5 separate regions of the Homo sapiens genome follow, and all the other regions are reported to be linked to region 5. Evidence: microRNA targets listed by miRTarBase, many of them from high-throughput screens and not tested one by one. Region 5 holds a microRNA gene; each other region holds the end of a gene's coding sequence. Distances are from middle to middle.

The links. The annotated mature microRNA hsa-miR-548f-5p reads UGCAAAAGUAAUCACAGUUUUU and lies in region 5 at 2,286-2,307, shown strand. An mRNA with a match to its seed (bases 2 to 7 or 8) in the 3' UTR can be bound and repressed. Matches are read on the target gene's strand: a 7mer-m8 pairs with bases 2 to 8, a 7mer-A1 pairs with bases 2 to 7 and ends in A, and an 8mer does both.
Region 1: miRTarBase lists MFF as a target of hsa-miR-548f-5p. Seed matches in the 3' UTR shown: 7mer-A1 at 2,756-2,762 and 7mer-A1 at 2,583-2,589.
Region 2: miRTarBase lists MKX as a target of hsa-miR-548f-5p. Seed matches in the 3' UTR shown: 7mer-A1 at 2,303-2,309 and 7mer-m8 at 3,012-3,018.
Region 3: miRTarBase lists ZNF622 as a target of hsa-miR-548f-5p. Seed matches in the 3' UTR shown: 7mer-m8 at 634-640.
Region 4: the mRNA of NKAPD1 is a reported target of hsa-miR-548f-5p. Seed matches in the 3' UTR shown: 7mer-A1 at 1,339-1,345 and 7mer-A1 at 1,704-1,710.

Annotation. Positions count from the first base shown.
Region 1 is chr2:227,356,234-227,360,307 of GRCh38, reverse strand. MFF (mitochondrial fission factor) reads right to left here. Exons shown (of 9, transcript NM_001277062.2): 9 at 2,475-3,322. The coding sequence ends at 3,191. Among named protein-coding and RNA genes, the nearest start is that of TM4SF20, 21 kb to the left of the region's middle.
Region 2 is chr10:27,672,036-27,676,109 of GRCh38, reverse strand. It overlaps MKX (mohawk homeobox), which reads left to right. Exons shown (of 7, transcript NM_173576.3): 6 at 556-589; 7 at 695-3,236. The coding sequence ends at 881. Among named protein-coding and RNA genes, the nearest start is that of MKX-AS1, 71 kb to the left of the region's middle.
Region 3 is chr5:16,449,204-16,452,203 of GRCh38, reverse strand. ZNF622 (zinc finger protein 622) reads left to right here. Exons shown (of 6, transcript NM_033414.3): 6 at 420-685. The coding sequence ends at 547. Among named protein-coding and RNA genes, the nearest start is that of LINC02150, 9.6 kb to the right of the region's middle.
Region 4 is chr11:112,081,867-112,085,940 of GRCh38, forward strand. NKAPD1 (NKAP domain containing 1) reads left to right here. Exons shown (of 6, transcript NM_018195.4): 5 at 116-169; 6 at 599-3,284. The coding sequence ends at 1,106. It overlaps TIMM8B (translocase of inner mitochondrial membrane 8 homolog B), which reads right to left. Exons shown (of 2, transcript NM_012459.4): 2 at 2,934-3,596. The coding sequence ends at 3,429. Among named protein-coding and RNA genes, the nearest start is that of TIMM8B, 2.9 kb to the right of the region's middle.
Region 5 is chr10:54,606,159-54,610,232 of GRCh38, reverse strand. It overlaps MIR548F1 (microRNA 548f-1), which reads left to right and starts at 2,276; the gene lies at 2,276-2,359. All of the region lies in intron 2 of PCDH15 (protocadherin related 15), which reads left to right. LOC105378311 (a long non-coding RNA gene) reads right to left here. Exons shown (of 6, transcript NR_134503.1): 3 at 3,248-4,074.

The DNA of each region.
Region 1 (4,074 bases), not on the chromosome of region 5:
GTTAAGTATTTATGTGTGAAAAAGTGTTAAGAAAAAATGACTGTTTATTGGCAGCATATACACTCAGAGTCAGGAATGATAGTGATGGCAAAAAACCCGACTGTCCACATGCGTGGCTGAGATATCACTATGACATCTTTGCTTTTTGCTTTCTGATGGTTCAGCATACACAAACTTTGTTTCATACACAAAATTTGAAATATTGTATAAAATTATCTTTAGGTTATGTGTAGAGGGTATGTATGAAATATAAATGAATTTCATGTTTAGACTTGGGTCCCATCCTCAAGATATCTCATTATGTATATGTAAATACTTGAAAATCTGAAAAACTCTGAAATTCAAAATACTTCTGGTCCAAAGAATTTTGGATAAGGGCTGGGCAATCACTATAGTTAAGGAGCTGGAAACACACATTCATGCAGGAAGGAAGGAAAAAGGAAAGCTCTCTTGAAAATATACTACTTCCATGATGTTATCCTTCAAAGTGTAAACAACCTGCACATACTTCAACCATAATTACTAGAAGTGGGGAGAAGGGTGCACTTTCAGTAGTGCAACAATATATTTGCTATACTTAGTTGTATGATACGACTTTGGCTCCTGACTGTATCCATTTCTCCCTCTATCATCTGCACCTGGAATATTTTCTTGTTCTTTCTCTGCTTGTTGAAAGGCTCAGCTCAAATATCTGGTTATACTAACCAGGAACTAATTTGTTCTTCTCAACTCCAAAATATATTTCAACAGTAATTAACAATTTTTAGGGGAAGTACACAGGTGTTTAATAGAGATCCTAACTTTGGAGTTAGAGAGATTCAAGCTTTTCTACTTCTAGATATGTGACAAGGTCAGGTAAGGCAGGTTTCTTGGTTGTCCCCTTTTGCACTGTAAACAGAGTTTTCATTCACCGTCTGTTGGGGTCTTAGCTTCATTCACGAGTCTCCTGTTACAGCTGGTGCCTGCCTGAGGTAGGGAAGTCGATCTTCTACCCCTTGCACAATCATTAAGGGAGAAAGCTCCAAGTGTCCATTCTTTGGTAAGAATCATGAGGGAAAAAAAGGGCTTCCGCACTTCTCTCTCAGTATTCCTGCTTTTATTTCATTTTTTGACCTTTGTGGAATCCTTTTCATGTCTGTTTATCAAAAGATACTAACCTTATCCATCATTTTTCTTCATTTTTGTGATTTCAATTTGGAGGATAACCACAGAAATTACCTTCTGGTATACATAAATCTAGAATTAATATAGTTGCATCATTACCAAAAGTCAGAAAACTTCTAAGTACAGAGAAGAATCTTTGTCTTGATATTATTTTAGAGGGATAAGAAGCAAGAACGGAAATGCTAAATCTAACTCTATCCAAGGAATTTCCTCAACTGCCTTTCCCCAAACTCCCTGCCTTGGAAGAAAGATACCAAAGATGTGTGGAGAATGTTGCACCTAACTGAATTCTACCCATTTCTGAACCGAAAATGGGGAAATATAAGTTTTGAGAGCTAAAACTGTCTAGCACTTGGCTTCACTTGGTTTAATTCTTTTGAGATTTACTTTTAAATTTTTAGTTTTTTTTTGAGACGGAGTTTGGCTCTGTCACTCAGGCTGGAGTACAGTGGCATGATCTCAGCTTACTGCAACCTCTGCCTTCTGGGTTCAAGTGATTCTTCTGCCTCAGCCTCCTGAGTAGCTGGGATTACAGCTATTGCCACCATGCCTGCCACCACACCTGGCTAATTTTTGTATTTTTGGTAGAGATGGGGTTTCACTGTATTGGCCAGGCTGGTCTCGAACTCCTGACTTCAAGTGATCCACCCGCCTAGGCCTCCCAAAGTATTAGGATTACGGGCGTGAGCCACCACACCCAGCCTTGAGATTTAAATTCACCTATATATAATTAGCAAATAAATACTGCCATGAAAAAAGTATATACAACTCTGGCTGGGCGCAGTGGCTGTAATCCCAGCACTTTGGGAGGCTGAGGCAGGCAGACCACCTGAGGTCAGGAGTTCGAGACCAGCCTGGCCAACATGGCGAAACCCTGTATCTACTAAAAATACAAAAATTAGTTGGGTGTGGTGGCCAGCGCCTGTAATCCCAGCTACTCTGGAGGCTGAGGCAGAAGGATCACTTGAACCTGGGAGGTGGAGGTTGCAGTGAGCTGAGATCATGCCACGGGACTCCAGCATCAGCAACAGAGCGAGACTCCATCTCAAAAAAAAAAAAGTATACACAACTCAAGGTATTTAAACCTGAACCACTTTATAGATATTATAAATTAGAAAACCACCTACAATGCAACCAACAGCCACCACCACCAGGATGAAGGTCTGAAAGGAAGCACAGCAGGTTCTTGCTACCTACCAGGTCATTAATTGTATTACTTGCTCTGAGACGGGAAGACTCATAAGGTAATATGATACAAAATGTAGCTGATTGCACAAATGATGAAATAAAATCCTTCAACAGACAAATACTTCTTTGGTTGACAGTTTATTAAATACACTACATTTGTACCTTATTCTGTCGTTTTTTAAATTGTTCACGCATGAACTGAGTAAAAACGTACTTTATAGAAAACCAAGTGCAAAACTAAAATGAAAGAATGCACATATTGCACACATATGAAACTGCTGCAATGTTAGAAATTAATCTGTACAAGTACCTAATGAAGAAGGTTATGAAATATTAGGTGGTTCGAGTTTCTTAAATCTGGCACCAGACCATGACTTTGAAAGTGTTAATGTTGAAGTGTCGATGCAAAAATGTCTATTAACAAAACTGCTTAACACTGTTTGAGAAACAGGACAAAATAATTGTTTTTCTTTCACAGACACTTTTCTGAATCAATTCTCTACAGACTCTCTCCCATTCAGAATCAGTTGGGTGGACTGATGAGGCAAAAAATAAATTCCTTTTAAAAAACAAAACTGGAGCCTATTTACAAAACATGCAAAGGGAGAATTTTAAGCAGGTGTTACTGCAGAACTGCTCAGACGTGAATACAGCTGAGTGACAGAATATACCTTTACTTCTACAAATATAGGTCCTTCCTCCAGACTTTCTGGAAGAAATACATTTTCAGGGTGTGGACTATAAAATGGCATACAATGCAGAGACAGAAACAAAGAAGTTTGCAAATCTTTTATATTTCCAGCTGTTGAGACAGTATTTTTGAGGGCTGATGTTACCTCTAGCGGCGAAACCAGAGCCAGCTATTAAGCAGCCAGAAAGCTACAGTAATTGAATACATGACCATTTCTCTTTTAGCACGTTCTTTGTTCTCCTCTTCCAGAAGTTGTAGACGTCTATTTAGTTTGATTATCTAAGTGAAAAACAAACACACAAAAAATATAATATAGAGGCTTTAATGAATAGGGCAATCAGATTCTTATAAAGTAAGTAGTATAATAATTTGTCAACAAAAGTATTATTACAAACATGGAAAGTTTCATTTGGAGCAAAATAAACACAACTACACATAGAAAAACATGTCATTCATGACAGCTTAAATTCACTTAAACATCCTTTCCCTTTCCCTTCTTCAGATTTCTGAGTTAGGAAGGGTGTATTTCCTTCCTAACTTGATTACATAGTGAGGTGAGGAAGCGGTTACCTACTGTTATTCTGGCAGAAAAGACTCAGTATGCATTTTGGCAGGCTTACCACAGCAGAAAGAATACGGGACTCCTTCCCCTTTCTATGCCTCTCCTATGAACTTGTCACTCAACCTCAGTTGTTCATCTTGAACCTGGCATAACCGCCTTCTCTGTCCACCTCTGAGTTACTGAGACAATCCAATAAAATAATCTACTGTAGGGGGCCTTGGGATATGGCACCCAAACCCTTCAGGCCTGAAGGCTAATTCCCCAGCTGCTGGAAATGCTGCTGGCTGACAGTACCATCCTTGCTGTTAGCCCTTACTGTGAAAATCCCAGGGCTGAACAACCACCTGCTAAAGCTTGTGTTCTCCTACTGATCTTCACCTAAAAATATCTTATTTAATCCAATTTCCCTCTATATCTATTTGGTATAGACGCAATGAGAAAACCAACTATGCCTTCTTCACATGTGTGT
Region 2 (4,074 bases), 27 Mb from region 5:
TTAGTAGAGATGAGGTCTCACTATGTAGCGCAGGCTGGTCTCGAATTCCTAGGCTCAAGCAATCCCCCGCCTTGGCCTCCCAAAGTGCTGGGATTACAGATATGAGCCACTGTGCCCAGCCAAAGCTCCCTGATTTTATAGTTAGAGAACTGAATCCCTGACATTGTGGGAGGTCATAATCTGCCCCCAGGTTACACTGCAAGTGGGTAGTAGGGCAAGGCCAGAACCTGGCCCCAGGTACAGTCAGCACTCTTTTCCTTATGCTGTTTGTCTCCTGATCCAAAAGGCCCAATTTCTCAGAGTAAATAACTTCAGATTTTTGTGTATCTATGAGAGCTACCTTTTATTCTTTACTACCCACTGTCATCTTACTTCTGCCCCTTTGCAATTTTTTTTGCATCTTAATATAAACTGCTTTATCTTTATTAAAAGCGAACTAATTTTCAACCATATTTCCTGAAGAACTTTTACTTCTGGTCATTAGTGATGAAACTCCTGAGATGAGAAAAGAAAGGAAAAACATAAAAATAATTGAATTTTTGCTTTTCTTTACAGACACTCTGGAAAACGGATCCAATAAGGGTGAAAGGTGAGCAAAATGTTCCCATTGGCCGTTCCTGCTTTTCAGCGATGGCATTTTCAATGCAAACTGCAGTGAGTTTGATCGTTTACTTTCTGTTTTGCTTAACTCCAGCGCAGCTAACAGAAAAGGACCAAGCAAGGATGACACGTATTGGAAGGAGATCAACGCAGCTATGGCCTTAACAAATCTTGCACAGGGAAAGGACAAACTGCAGGGAACTACCAGCTGCATCATCCAGAAGTCGTCCCATATAGCAGAAGTAAAGACTGTCAAAGTGCCGCTGGTGCAGCAGTTTTAAGAGCTTGTTGCTTTTCAGATCCAATGGATGTTCTTTCCGGTGTTTTCATCAACCCTCATCCTAAGAGCCGAAGCAGGGATGAAAATGACTCTCTCCCAAACCTCTTCTTATTTTTAATTATCCCAAATATATCATTTAGTTGCTTCTATAAAAGACATATAAATTATAAAAAACTCATTTTAATCAAAAATATTAACTTATTTTATGTTACTCAAACTATGCATAAAACATCTGCATTACCATTACAGTAAGTGCCTTGCTTCCCGACAATAAGCTCCAACGTGGGCATAGTTGAACAAGCTATGCCTCAAAATGCCAACGCCATATGCTTATTAGCCTGTGTGCATCATTCCAGACGGGCCTAATCATTCCAGGACTGAAACCAGAATCGCTGAAAGCCCTTGAAATACATTCAATAATTCATATGTTAAAACTTGGATATCTGTTCAGCCCAAATGAAATCTTCCTTTTAAAAAACGTCTACATTATTGAAAATTGTTCAATGTGCTTTTCAGAGTGACGGTGAGAATTTTATGCATGTATCTTGCCTGCATATTTGATATGTTACAAACTTCCAAAATTCAAGGTGCAGCGATCCACAGAACGTTGTACATTTAAGAAGTGATTCCTTCAAGCTAATTTAAAATTTCATTGAACACATGGTGACCAGGAAAACTTTTTTTCAAGCACTGTTGGAAAGCACCACAAAGCCCTTTAGAATTAATCTGGATTTGTTTCTCAAGTTCTGCTGAAGTTTAAAAAAAAACTTTATTATACAAATAACTCAAAATTTTCCTGTGTAAAACTAAACCTGTAGTTTTAAAACATAATCCTGTTTGCATTAGAGCTCACTGTCTTTTTGTGATGGAAACTGTGTTCGTATGGAATGACTAAAAATCTTTTATTTGGTTTGTTTCAAATTACAATTGCTGATGGACAATTTGTATTGCAGCGAGAACAACAGAATGAAAGAAATGTATCTCTGTGCGGCTATACATATACATACATAAAATTGATTTTTAAATTTAAAACATATGGAAAACAAAACATTGAACAGTTTGAATTTTGCCAAGTTGGACATTAAAGTAAAAATGAAGTGAAATCATGCATTGAAAGAAAACATTTTGTTTCTAAATTAGTCTACCATTGAGTGAGAATAATCAATATCAAGAAAGAAGACTATCTTTCTCAACTAAACAATAATATTCCAATCAGCTTGGGAAGACCTGAAACTTGAATAAGCAGTGGAAATGCCAAATATAACAGAGGGTATGTGCTACAGAGAAGTAAAAAGGGTTTGACTTTTTATGATGGGATTTTTTTTTTCTGGGTATGTAATCTATTTTTTTTTTAAACTGGAAAGCATTTTTGTCAGTGTGAATGAGGGTCAATAGTGCAGCCAGTGGTGACATTTTTCTTTATTTTGCAAAATGCTTTTAAAACCAAAGGCTGCTCTAGTTGATGGACAGTATCAGTCTTGATCTAAATTGTAGGACACTTTTTCATGTAACATAACATTTGGGGATTGGGTTTATTTAGTGTAATGAAGATAATTTGATATAAAAATATTTTGTGTATATATATATATTTTTACTTTGTTTTCTAAATTGCTGTTTGCAGTAACAGTAAGCGCAAAGCAAAATATATAAGTTATGACTGTATGATCAGATGAAGTATGAGTTCTTTTGGTTTGCATCCTTAAATAGTTAGAGATCTCTGATAAAAACTTTGGAATCTTTGCAAAACAATACAAAAATGCCAAAATGTGAGCATGTCAATGAAAACTAAAGACAAATACTTCACTCTTTTTCATACTATTATAAGTTATTCTGGTATTAAATATGTTAATAAAAGTGTTTTTGTTTTGACATATTTCAGTTAAATGAATGAATGCTGGTTGTATTTTATTTGAATGAGTCATGATTCATGTTTGCCATCTTTTTAAAAAAATCAGCAAATTTCTTCTATGTTATAAATTATAGATGACAAGGCAATATAGGACAACTATTCACATGATTTTTTTTAATACCAAAGGTTGGAAGATTTTATAATTAACATGTCAAGAAGACTTTATAGTAAGCACATCCTTGGTAATATCTCCAATTGCAATGACTTTTTAATTTATTTTTTCTTTTGCTGCTTTAACATTTTCTGGATATTAAAATCCCCCCAGTCCTTTAAAAGAATCTTGAACAATGCTGAGCCGGCAGCTGAAAATCTAACTCATAATTTATGTTGTAGAGAAATAGAATTACCTCTATTCTTTGTTTTGCCATATGTAATCATTTTAATAAAATTAATAACTGCCAGGAGTTCTTGACAGATTTAAAATAAAAGTTAATTTCTAGACCTCGATGATCGTATGGATTTTGTTTTCCTTTGAGAGCTGACCAGGTAGATGAAGCAGTAGAACAGACGGGCCCATTATATTCAGCAATTCTCCTTAGACTGTTAAGGGATATGATATGGGAGTGCTGCATTTGTATTAGGTTTGAATTTCATCACCTTAGGCCACCAATCCAGCTTTCAAAGACTGAGGAAAAGGGAGTGTGATGCCGACTATTAAAATACCTAACTTTAAAATGAACATTTTCAGGTAATACCTTCTTTCCCTCACTAATACAATTAGCATTATTTGTGGTGTGCTCTGCACTGGAGAGAAAACCTTGGCTTTGAAGCTAGACAGAACTACCTTTGAATCTCAGCTCTGTCCCTTACTACTTAGTCATTCTTATCTAGTTTCTTCATCTGCAAAGTGGGAGTAAGGAGCTATACCTTGTAGGGTTTGCACTAAGATTGAGATAAAATGCAATACATAAAGTGCCTACCTCAGTGTCTGTCAGATAATAGGTGCTTGGTAACTGGAACATATTATTGCATAGTTACAATTCCTCTATTCAGGCTTTATGCACAAGAAAGTAGAAATATTTAAAATAAATGGAACATAAGACATGGGTAGTTTAATGGACAGCTGTAGAGAGGGAGAGATGCCTGACAAGAAAAGCTGCTGTGCAATGGTGAAAATTGGTATCAGAGTTAGAAAGGCCTTCAAGGAAGATCATTTTAGCATCATCACTTAAAACTTCCAGGCAAAAAGCATAAAGCGTTGCGAAGCCAAGGCAGAACAGACATTCCAACAGAAAACACGATATGTGCTGTCACTTCCTTCTTTGGGATAAACAAGAATTGCTTT
Region 3 (3,000 bases), not on the chromosome of region 5:
GTGTTTATATGTGGTTTCCTTCACTGTGGCTGCTTGTGAGCTGTGTGGCCACTTGAATCTGGCAGAGACTTGACTTCATCTTACTCTTATCAGGAAGTATTGTCTGACTCGATATATAGCTTCTGCCTTTCTGATTAATGGGGCTTTACCTTTTGGGCTTATAAACTCTTCCAGATGATGAAAACTAAAGCTACTAATCCCAGATAAGTGTATATATACAAAAGTTCTGGTATGCAATTCTGGAGTCCACAGAGACCCCTGAGGCGCATGGCTTAGAGACCCCAAGTTAGCAACTCTGTTTTAAATACAAGAACCTAGTTACCCCAAACTAACCTTTTGAATTCTCTGCCAAGGTTGGATTTTCTCTGATCACAAATAACAGAACTTTGCCTAATTTCTTAACTGCCTTCCAATCATAGGAGCGGCTCTTATGCGAGAGCGAGACATGCAGTATGTCCAAAGGATGAAATCAAAATGGATGCTGAAGACAGGAATGAAGAACAATGCCACCAAGCAGATGCACTTTCGGGTCCAAGTGAGATTCTGAGAGTCTGCTGGGATTGAGCAATCATCTCCTGCCCAAGTTTCCTCCTTGCCCTGAGGACCAGTGAAAGACAGATCATAGGAGAGACCCTTTTGCTGCTACTTCATTCGTTCTGACCTAATAATAAAAGTTAGAACCATATGAGTTTTCAGATGTCGTTTTTGAATAGTGTTGAAAGGTTATGTTTTCACAAGGTAAGTCCTGTGTCTACTGGACCCTGGGACTTGCACTGCTGCCTGACAGTTGCTTCATCGCCTCAGCTTTAAATGATTTATGATTGTCAGAGTAATGTGAGGAATCAGGAATGACTTGTGTGCCCCAAACTTAGTTTAACTTTGAGAGTAACTCACCATGTCATGGCACTGGGACCTATGTAAGGGGGCTTGAAGGCTTATGTAGGGGCAAAGTTGAATGTCACTCATGGAATGTATCATGGTACAGGAGGTACTGAATATCTCTGGGCGCTTGCATTAAATCCAGGCTAAGTTAAAAAGCACATCAATAGCTTGCTGTAAAGGTTTTATATTTCTAAACATGACTGCACAGAGTGACTACTGTGTAGTCTGATGCAGTTTCCAGTGGTGCAGTTAGTCTAGGAGGAAAGTAAAGGTAAAATGCTTAGGTATCATTTTAGAAAGACTACCTCAGGGTCAAATCTTGGGAGAAATTCTCAGGTTAGGTGGCTTAGAGGAAGGCACTGATATAGTGAAAATGAAGCTAAACATGAAGTTCAAATCCATTGAGTTATCTTTGTGACCTTGGAAAAGTGACTTGGCTTTTTAAATCTGTAAAATGGAGGTGTTTATTATCTCACAGGCTGTTGGGGTTAAATAAATCTGCTAAAGGACCCAACACTCATTGAGTCCCTGGCAGAGTTAGTGCTTAAAGTTCTCTTTTACAGAGCAAATATACCACACTGAGTAAGGCATGGTGAGTTTTAGTCAGTGCAGTATACTGAGTGGTGGGTTCAAGCATGCCAGGAGAATGTGGTTGCCCTCACGGTGTATTAACCAGACCTCATTTGCTAGACATAGGTCTTTTTCTTTAAACTTTGGATGCAGAGTTGAATTAATTACATCCCATTGGTGCCCAGGTTCCCTATTATCCAACAATGAGGACTCCTTGGTTTTAATTTTGCTCCTTCAATCCTGTTTTCTACCATTCTCCCCACAGAAGGACCCAATCTGTTGTGTTTGACACACCTTTAAATCTATAGCCTGAGAAAATGGTGTAGTGCTTTGCATGTGGTATGTTTTTAATTTATGCTTAACCAAATGTACATGATACTGTGTTATAGTTCTTCTCAGTTTCGTTTTTCATTCAACATTTTTTCACTCCACATCTAGCAGTGTCTAGTTCATTACTTCTGACTGCTGCCTGGTATTCTATAGTGTGCGTCTACCACACCTTCCTTACTGCTTTCTCTAGAGCTGACACCTTGATTGCCTTCAACTCCACATCACCATACCAGCTAGCACTGTTAATGCATACCTCACTTATATACATGAATATATATAAATATACATTTATGTCGTCTTTTGTCATCTCTTTTATCCGGTGAGGGGCATGGGAGGCAATGAGAACAGCATGTTTACTGACCTGTAAAATACTAATACTATCTCTGTTTATTTCATTTTTGAGACAGGGTCTTGCTGTGTCTCCCAGGCTGGGTGCAGTGGAGTGATCACTGCTTACTGCAGCCTCGACCCCATGGGCTAAAGTGATCTTTCCACCTCAGCCTCCCTGGTAGCTGGGACTACAGGTCTGTACCACCATGCCTGACTAATTTTTTTTTTTTTTTTTGCAGAGAGAGAGTCTCACTATGTTGCCCAGGCTGGTTTTGAATTCCTGGGCTGAAGCAATCCTCATGCCTCAGCCTCCCAAAGTGCTGGGATTATAGGCGTGAACCACCACGCCCAGCCTCTTCATTTATTTAATTAGCTACTTCTTCCAGGCTTCAGGAGACACCTTAGTTCTGATTTTGGGTTTGTGGAACAATCCATTGTCTCACTTCTATCCACACTGTAATTTTATAAAATTCAATTTATTTGCTTTTCTGGAGTAGAATTCTATTTGCAGGATGGAGGATGGAGGGGGGCCCAGCAAACAAAAAGAGATTTAAACCTTATCTCCTGATAGTTAAGTGAACGAGACAGGAAACATGACAAATGGACTTGTTATTTTGGGGGAGCCTCTTGGTGGTACAAGAAAATGTGGAGATGTCTTTGATATTTTATTTGCTTGTTGTTCCTTTGGGGTGTGTTTATCTTTCTTTCTCTAGGTGCACTCTGTTCCCCACTCTGTTTTCTGTATTAGGATTTTTTGGGCTTCCTGGTCCATTCACACATAGTCATTTACCATCAGTTCTCCCTGTTTTGGTGTTTTCACAGCTACATGATCCTTTTCTGGTATCTTATGCCTATCACACTGGAGAAGTGAACACATGCATGTGGGCT
Region 4 (4,074 bases), not on the chromosome of region 5:
TCTACTTTGTGTTTATGTTTGTGTATGCATGTACTCCAAAGTCTTTCTAATGTTGCTTTAATTTCCAAAAATGTATGCATTGCTTTAACAATACATGTGATGTGTCATATTACAGATGGGGTCACAGTGGTTATAAAGAGTTATACCCTGAAGAATTTGAAACAGACAGGTAAGGAAAATAGGCTTACTGAAAGAAACTAAGATGGTACAAAATCTGTATTATAAATTGATTTCTTAACTTTTACGAAGAATATACTTGCCATCAAAAATGTAGCTAGAGAAACAATAGGTGATTTAGTTAGGAGGTGATCCCTGTTTTCCCATTCTCTGGTTGATGTTTGGCATGTCTGTAAGCATTTTGGTTTTTATATATAGTATTCCATACAGTAACTCAGTATGGCAGCTTAGAATTTTTACCTTCATTTTAAAGATGAGGAAACAAAAACTCAATGAGAATATTAAAGTGTTAAAGTATACATTAAAGTGCTTATTTAAAATTCAGATGTTAACCTCAATTTTTTAATCTAGAATGCAAAATATTAAAATAATACGCTTTTTTTTTACATAAAAGCTTCTATTTTTTAACTTTTCTTATTAGTAGTGATCAGCAAGATATTACCAACGGGAAGAAAACATCTCCCCAGGTAAAGTCATCTACCCATGAATCCCGCAAACACAAGAAGTCAAAGAAATCCCACAAAAAAAAGCAGAAAAAAAGGTCACACAAAAAACAGAAGAAAAGCAAAAAGGAAGCCACAGATATAACAGCAGATTCCTCGAGTGAGTTCTCAGAAGAAACTGGGGCTTCTGGTACAAGGAAAGGGAAACAACCACATAAACGCAAGAAAAAATCCAGGAAAAAGTCTCTCAAAAAACCTGCTTTATTCTTAGAGGCAGAAAGTAACACTTCACATTCAGATGATTCAGCATCCAGCAGTTCTGAGGAAAGTGAGGAAAGAGACACTAAGAAAACCAAAAGGAAAAAGAGAGAGAAAAAAGCCCATACCTCTGTAGCCAACAATGAAATACAGGAGAGGACAAACAAACGCACAAATTGGAAAGTAGCTACAGATGAAAGGTCTGCTGAGAGCTCAGAGGATGACTAAATGGGAAACACTTTTGTTTTCCACATGACTGTGGATATTTACAGTTCTTACTCCTTGTGGTTTTGCCAGTGACTCTTGTTCAGCACGGGGCCTGAGGTCAGAGCTGTCTTGTGCCATCTGTATGTTCTGACAGACGTCTTGTCTTCTATTTTGGCGTTAAGCTTGATCCCCTTTTCTTGTTAAAAGGGAATCTGGTATTTTGTTATGAAGGTTTCTTGAAGAGATTATTTTTTTTTGCAATTAATTACGTTTAGTGTAGAGTGCATATACAGCAAATTAAAGGACCCAGAAAGCTGGATCCAATAGTGACCTGGGTACACCAATCGGAATATTGAATTTGGGGAAGTCAAGGGCTGGGATCAAGAGGTGGATTGGAACTAATGCCATGTAGGATGGTATGACAAGGCAACACTGTATTGCTCTCTGTTTATATAGCAGGTGTCACAACTAACTTGTCTTTAGCCTTGGTGCTTTGATCCTTCTATATTTTGACCCCACAGGTGTGGTCCGGTTTACTTAATCAGGACATGGGCCTAAGAACAAACCTTTTCCCTTCATGATAACATCCATAGACAACTTATTAGAAGGGACTAGAGTTTTTGCAAATTTCCCTGCTGGATGGGGCCTATAGCTATACTTAGTATATGCCTAAACATGGTAATTGGATAGTAAATGGTTTTCTAGTTCCATTGCTGTATATTTGCCTAAATGGACTTGTGTTCAAATTATTTCTTCAATTGTCATAGATAATCCTGTACCAAATGGGGAAGAATTAGGAAATAATCATGTTGTCTAATGGTACTCTGGATTCAGGGCAGCAACTGCCATTTAAATGTTGTCTTGTTCATTTCTAAATCTGTTCATGAAGTTTAGGTTTTCCCTGAAACTAAGTTGAATTATTTCCAAAATGAAACAGGCTTCTCAGGGACATATCCACTTCTTCCCAGTCTGCCTTTGGATTAAAGCACCAAGCAGAGACCACATTAATTCCCTTTGCTATACTGTGATCCTTAGTATGTTAATTCTTAAGAAACCAACATATCACTGAAAGAAGGCTGGCAGAACGCAAGTGCATTTTTTCACTGTGGGAAGAAAGATCAAGTGACGTATTATTTTTTCCTGGTTGTCACTTAATGGGCTGAGTAAAAAGCTTGAAAACTCAGACTTTCGGTCTTGGTTCTGCCACTCATTGGTTATGAGGAGGCCCAGAGCAGGTAAGTTCACCTTCCTGGCCTTACTTTCCTGATGTGTAATACGGAATTACTTCACAGTAGCATGACAGTATAAGACACCAGCAGTAGATACAACTATGATGACATTCCATGAGTTGGTATTTTTAGTTCTAACTGCTAAATTTGTTCTCTTTACGGGACAGATTTCTAATAAAGTGCTTGGTCTTAAAATACATGGTTGGACAGAGGTGCCCTATCCCTTAACTATGAGCAGGTGCTACCTTTTGGGATATTTATTTTAAATTTTAATACTTTGGTACTCAATTGTCAGTGTTCCATGGTGTGTATTTTTATTTTTGGGATTAGTGGGGGTCTAAAGGGAGAAGAATAGTCTCTAATTACTACCTCTTAACCTAAAGCAATTATTTTGTTCCTGGAGCAAGTTAAATCTTTGTTGGAAGGAGCTTTGGCCATATATTTTTTAGCATGCATTGTTTCTGTGCCCTGAAAGTACCTGAAAGGTTTTAAGCACAGACTCAGGAAAATGTGCCAGTAGAACAGGCCATCTCCAGGAAATTGGCTCTATTTGGGTCCTGACCTTCCCTTCCTCCCAAGTTAGCAGGCTTGTTCTTTCGCAAGGAATACACATCTTGCCTTTTTTTTTTTTTTTTTGCCATGTTTTCCTTTTCTTGGTCATGTATAAGCAATAAAGCTGTTTTTTGTTCTTCATCTTTCTTAACCCCAAATTTTCTTCTATGCCTTAGGCTTCGATGGTTCTTCCAACCCCCTTAATATGGCTTAGGGTGGTTTTTCAAAACCTACAATCCCCCATTTGCACTACTGGCCATGGAACATTTATTTCTAGTGTTCCTGCCAATCAGAGATCTCTATATTAAATTCTAAAATGGGATTAAAAGAAGAGTTGGAGAATTCACACTTATTGAGTAACTGATGTCATACAACCTGGAATTTCTGAATTCCAAATAAATAAATTTCACTCTTTGAACATTTCATCTTTTACTTTTTAGCACCAACAGACTTGATAACAGCCTGATGCTGATCTGACAATGGGTTGATAGCCTTCCCCCACTGACCCTTAAATCTGCTTAGTAACAAGTCCTTTGCTTCTGTCATTCTCCTGGGGGATGGCCTACTGCCCTCCTTTCTGTACAATCTGGGCAAACCGACTGGTGATGGCAAGAGTGGTGTCAATGAAGCGGTCTACACAGCTGGAGAGACAATTTTCAGTGCGAGAGTCTAGGCGATTCCCTGGCTTCTCCACACATTTATCCCAACATAACTCCATGAAGTGATGCACCTAAAAGGAAAGAAAAATAGTAACCATTGGGGTCTGCAGATAGGCCTAACTCTTGTTTATTAACTTCTCACTTTTTGACACCTGACAAAACCATTCTTTAAATCAACCACGGAGTCACTTTGGGCTCTTCTCTTTCTTCATTTCCTAATTAGTCACCAATATTGATCCAGATCCTCGTCCCTACAGATTGTACATTCTCAGGTAGGACTAATAACCTTTTATATTCCCCAAAGTAGCTAGCACCATTGTGAACCAACTAGGGAACCAATTAATTTTCCCAAACTATTGCACTCATTTTATTCCAAACCTATCCCCTAGACAAGGTAATTCTTCCATTAACCTTTTGGGGGTTATGGATCCACTCCCCAGAAAAATGCACATACAGGCACAGAAATTATGTGCACTGTCATTAGAATGTTCAGGGCCCAAAGATTTCTAGCCAGGGTTCTTGCTGGTCATCCGAGCACCCTCTTCCTCC
Region 5 (4,074 bases):
TAAGAGCTAATAGATAGTATTTCTGAGGTGAAATACTATATTTGAAAAAATCGAGATCTGCACCAGTAAACAAAGCCTCTTTACCTTCCAAGAGTATGAGCTCAACAGCTATATTCACATCCCCTAAGAGGAAGAGTTAGTGACAATCAAATTGACAGAATAGGATGAACCTAAAGGTAACAACTAACAATTTTTGATGGCTATTTTACCCATGAAAAACCATCAGTATTGTTAATAAAAGTATCAAGAAATACAAATGAATTTAATGTTTTATTTTACATTAGAGAAACTATTTTAATGACATAAATATATGAACATAATTGAACTGCATATAAAGTGTTAAACCAATATTTAGCTATCTAATGTATTATAAATAGCCCTGCCTTCACATACATTTCCTCTAGGGAAAAAAATAGAATCATTTACTTTCTATAGATATTTAGTGTTCTTCAAAGTATCTTTGTTATTAAATTAATTTGGGAGAGGGAGGTGGTTAAGAAAACATTGCTTTACACCAGTACATATAACTATGTGATTTATAATAAATGCAACCACAGTGGCAGTATATTTTCTGGATGTTAATAGCCTGAAATCCCTTTCAGTAGCAGCATTAATCAGTCAAGGATGGGTTATTTTATGGTCTTTAATGGCCTTTGTTGATAGATGGAGATTTTGTTTACAGATTATTCTTCATTGAAGCACCATAGATTGCAAGCTATGATTCTTAAGAGATATTCTCAAAACATAAATTATGCTGCTAAGAAATCTGTTCAGAGCTAAATTAAATTAGATAGCTGCATTTTTTATGAAGCATAGGTAATGGAGCAGTATACTACAAATGCCTTTTCCTGAGACATTGGTGTGGAATATCTTTAACACAGAATTTTTTCCTAAGAAACATTCCTTTACTTGTGTGCAAGTTTATGAGCCTACATGTTCCTCTCCTGAGTAATTTATGTAGAATACATAACATTTGAAATGTATTTATGATATTTGACTATTATAATGAATATCTGCCTTCAGGTCAGACATTACCAAAAATTTTCATTTTTAAAAAATGAGCAAAAACAGTAGTGCTCATTTATATTTTCCAAATGTCTTCATAATTGAGTATACTGACAATTCAATAGTCAAATTTTAATAATTGTTGCAGTCAACGTTTTGTTTCACATTGAATAATTTTTTATTGTACCTTTCAGGGAAACATTATTCGTGCGCTTGTAGTGCGTGATTATCATTCATGTTGCTTCTAATAATATTTTGCTCACATACATCTTATAGATTGAGTACAGAGTCTAAAAATTTGGGTATGATTATACTACTTCAGAATATATTTTCATTTCCCAAATGTTATTGACTCTTAAAATTTCTAGCTAGGGACTGATTTTTTTTTCTCATTTCTTCTTCTTCTTCTTTTTTTAATGGAGAATAATATAATAGCTGTGGAAAACAAATGACTGTATTTTACTAAACTACACTAAACAAGCCAAGACACCCTTAATTTAATTCAATGTGAAAGTCAGAATTGTAAGAGAGCATAAATCTTGACTTCTTGACGAATATTACCAGACTAAGTCACATCATTTTGTTTGATGACTTTCTCCTTTTTGTATTTTTTATTTTGTTAAGAGAGGGTCTCTGTCACCCAGGCTGGAGTGCAGTGGCATGATCACAGATCACTGCAGCCTAGATATCCTGGGTTCAATCTATCCGCCCACCTCAGCCTCCAGAGTAGCTGAAACTATAGGCGTGTGTCACCACACCCAGATAATTATTATTATTATTATCTGTAGTGATGAGGTTTCACTAAACTGCCCAGGCGGGTCTCAAACTCCCGAGTTGAAGCGTTTCTCCCACATCAGCCTCTCTAAGTGGCTGGACTATAGGTGTACCCCACCATGTCCGCTATTTTTTCTTTTTTTTTTTTGGTAGAGATAAGTTTTTGTCATGTTGCCCATGCTCGTCCTAAACTCCTGGGCTCAAGCAATCCAGCCACCTCGGCCTCCCACAGTGCTGGGATTACAGTTGTGAGCCACCACACCTGGCCTCTCCTTTTATTGAGCGAAGTGTTTGCATACAAATCCCCTGGGATTTTTTTGCTCGGAAATCCCCTCAGGGCTATGCCTAGTCCTCTTTTTGGCTCTATCACTTTTACTGTATTTGTCAAAGAAAAGTATTTCAAGTTAAAATATTATTTTGAAAAATTCCTTATGTGTGCAAGTCTTCTCACAATAACCAAAATGATGTAGGCAAAGCCTTTCCAAAGTGCGGAAGTATTAGGTTGGTGCAAAAGTAATCACAGTTTTTGACATTACTTTCAAAGACAAAAACTGTAATTACTTTTGGACCAACCTAATAGCCTGATTAGCAGTGTCTTGCTCACAGTAGGCCTCATGGCATCATATCTCTTCCTTACCATCATTCTTCATATATCTATAAAAATTCTTTGTAGTAGACAGTAAAAGCCTTAAAGTTACCATTGATTTATTGAGCAATCTAATATTTTTTCTAATAAATATATTAAGATAATATAAATTTTAAAATCTCCATTACCCTCTAGTCTATTATATTTTCTTACTGATTGAATCGTTATGCTAAGGCAATTCTAATCGTAAGGACTATGGGTTGATTTCTACTCTTAACCTGAAACAAGAATAAATTTGTCATGCAGACAAATTTGCATAATGTTCAAAACATAAACATATGCCAGGAATTGAGAGGTCTCTGAGGGCAGGGACCTGGATTTCCTGTATGCCTTTCCTTCTCTTCTCTCTAGTCTACTGCCATTCTTTAATATTTTTCCATATTTAATAATGCCACATGTTATCATATATTGGGTAGTGGGCAGGGATATGGAGAAAATCATATTTTTGCCCCAGAATCCTCTACCAAGAATATTATTAAATTTAGAAGATTTTATATCACATTATTGTTTACCACATTTATTGCACATAAACTCAATTTTAAATCTTATAATTATCTTTTGACTAGTTCAGATATATTTAATTATTGTATTTTCTTTATGTAAAAAGTATTGTTATTAAATGTAAACATATAAAACAACTCATTTTCACAAATAATTTTTAGCATTTTAATTTTTTAAAATTGCAATAAATATTAAGTATAAGTTACTTTGACAACTAAAAGACCTTTATTACTTATGTTAATAAATCTTTCTAGCCACCTGAAATTAGTATATCTTTTCAAAAAATTCACTATATTTTTATGTGTATTTGCAGCCACTCACCATTTAGCCTTTGTTTTATGACTCTAGGGAATTCTTCATTAAAAGCTTTAGAATAGTCAGAATGTGAAACAGAAGACAGATCTATATAAGGCTCTTCCTCTCTCATCCTTCTGTTAGGAATTCTGCCACACTTTTGGTTTCTGATGGGTTTGATGTGACTTGGCCTTAAGTTTGGGCCATCCTTTAAACAATTAATCTGTGTTCTCTGCCACATGCTTCCAAACAAGTGTAGCTTGACTTCTTATCTTTTATGATATCTGAAAACCCTTCAGCCTACAGAGACACATACACTTAGTCTTTTGGTTGCTGATTCCAGTTGAGGACAATACTAATTTTTCTAGCCTGCATCCGAACTGGCATCTTTCCACAATCTTGATCCTGACCCATTGCTTCCATGTCCAAGACAGCACAAAATTCTAAAATTTTTATTTTGTTTTATTTAGTTTCCTTCTCTCTTTCTGATAGCAAGAAGGACACAAACTAGAGAAGCATCTTTGGGCAGTATGTGAAGCCTGCTCAAAGGAGTTGTAATCATTCTCATATATCTCAAAACTGAAGATAATTCTTGTCCTCTATGAAGGGTTTCTAGTAGCTGCTTTGAGAGTTCTTAGTTTCCTTTCTTTGTATTCTCATCCATGGCAGACATTCTTTGGCAGCAATTCTCACCTCTCAGGAAATAGAATCATCACTACTGTGGCCAGCTACTACAGACAAACTAAGGTACATTGAGAAAAAATGCCCAAACAAATGGGTTCTTCCCATATCTCCTCCACTTCACCTCCTCATTCACCAACTAGCTACAACAACAAAGCCCAGTTCCCAGATTC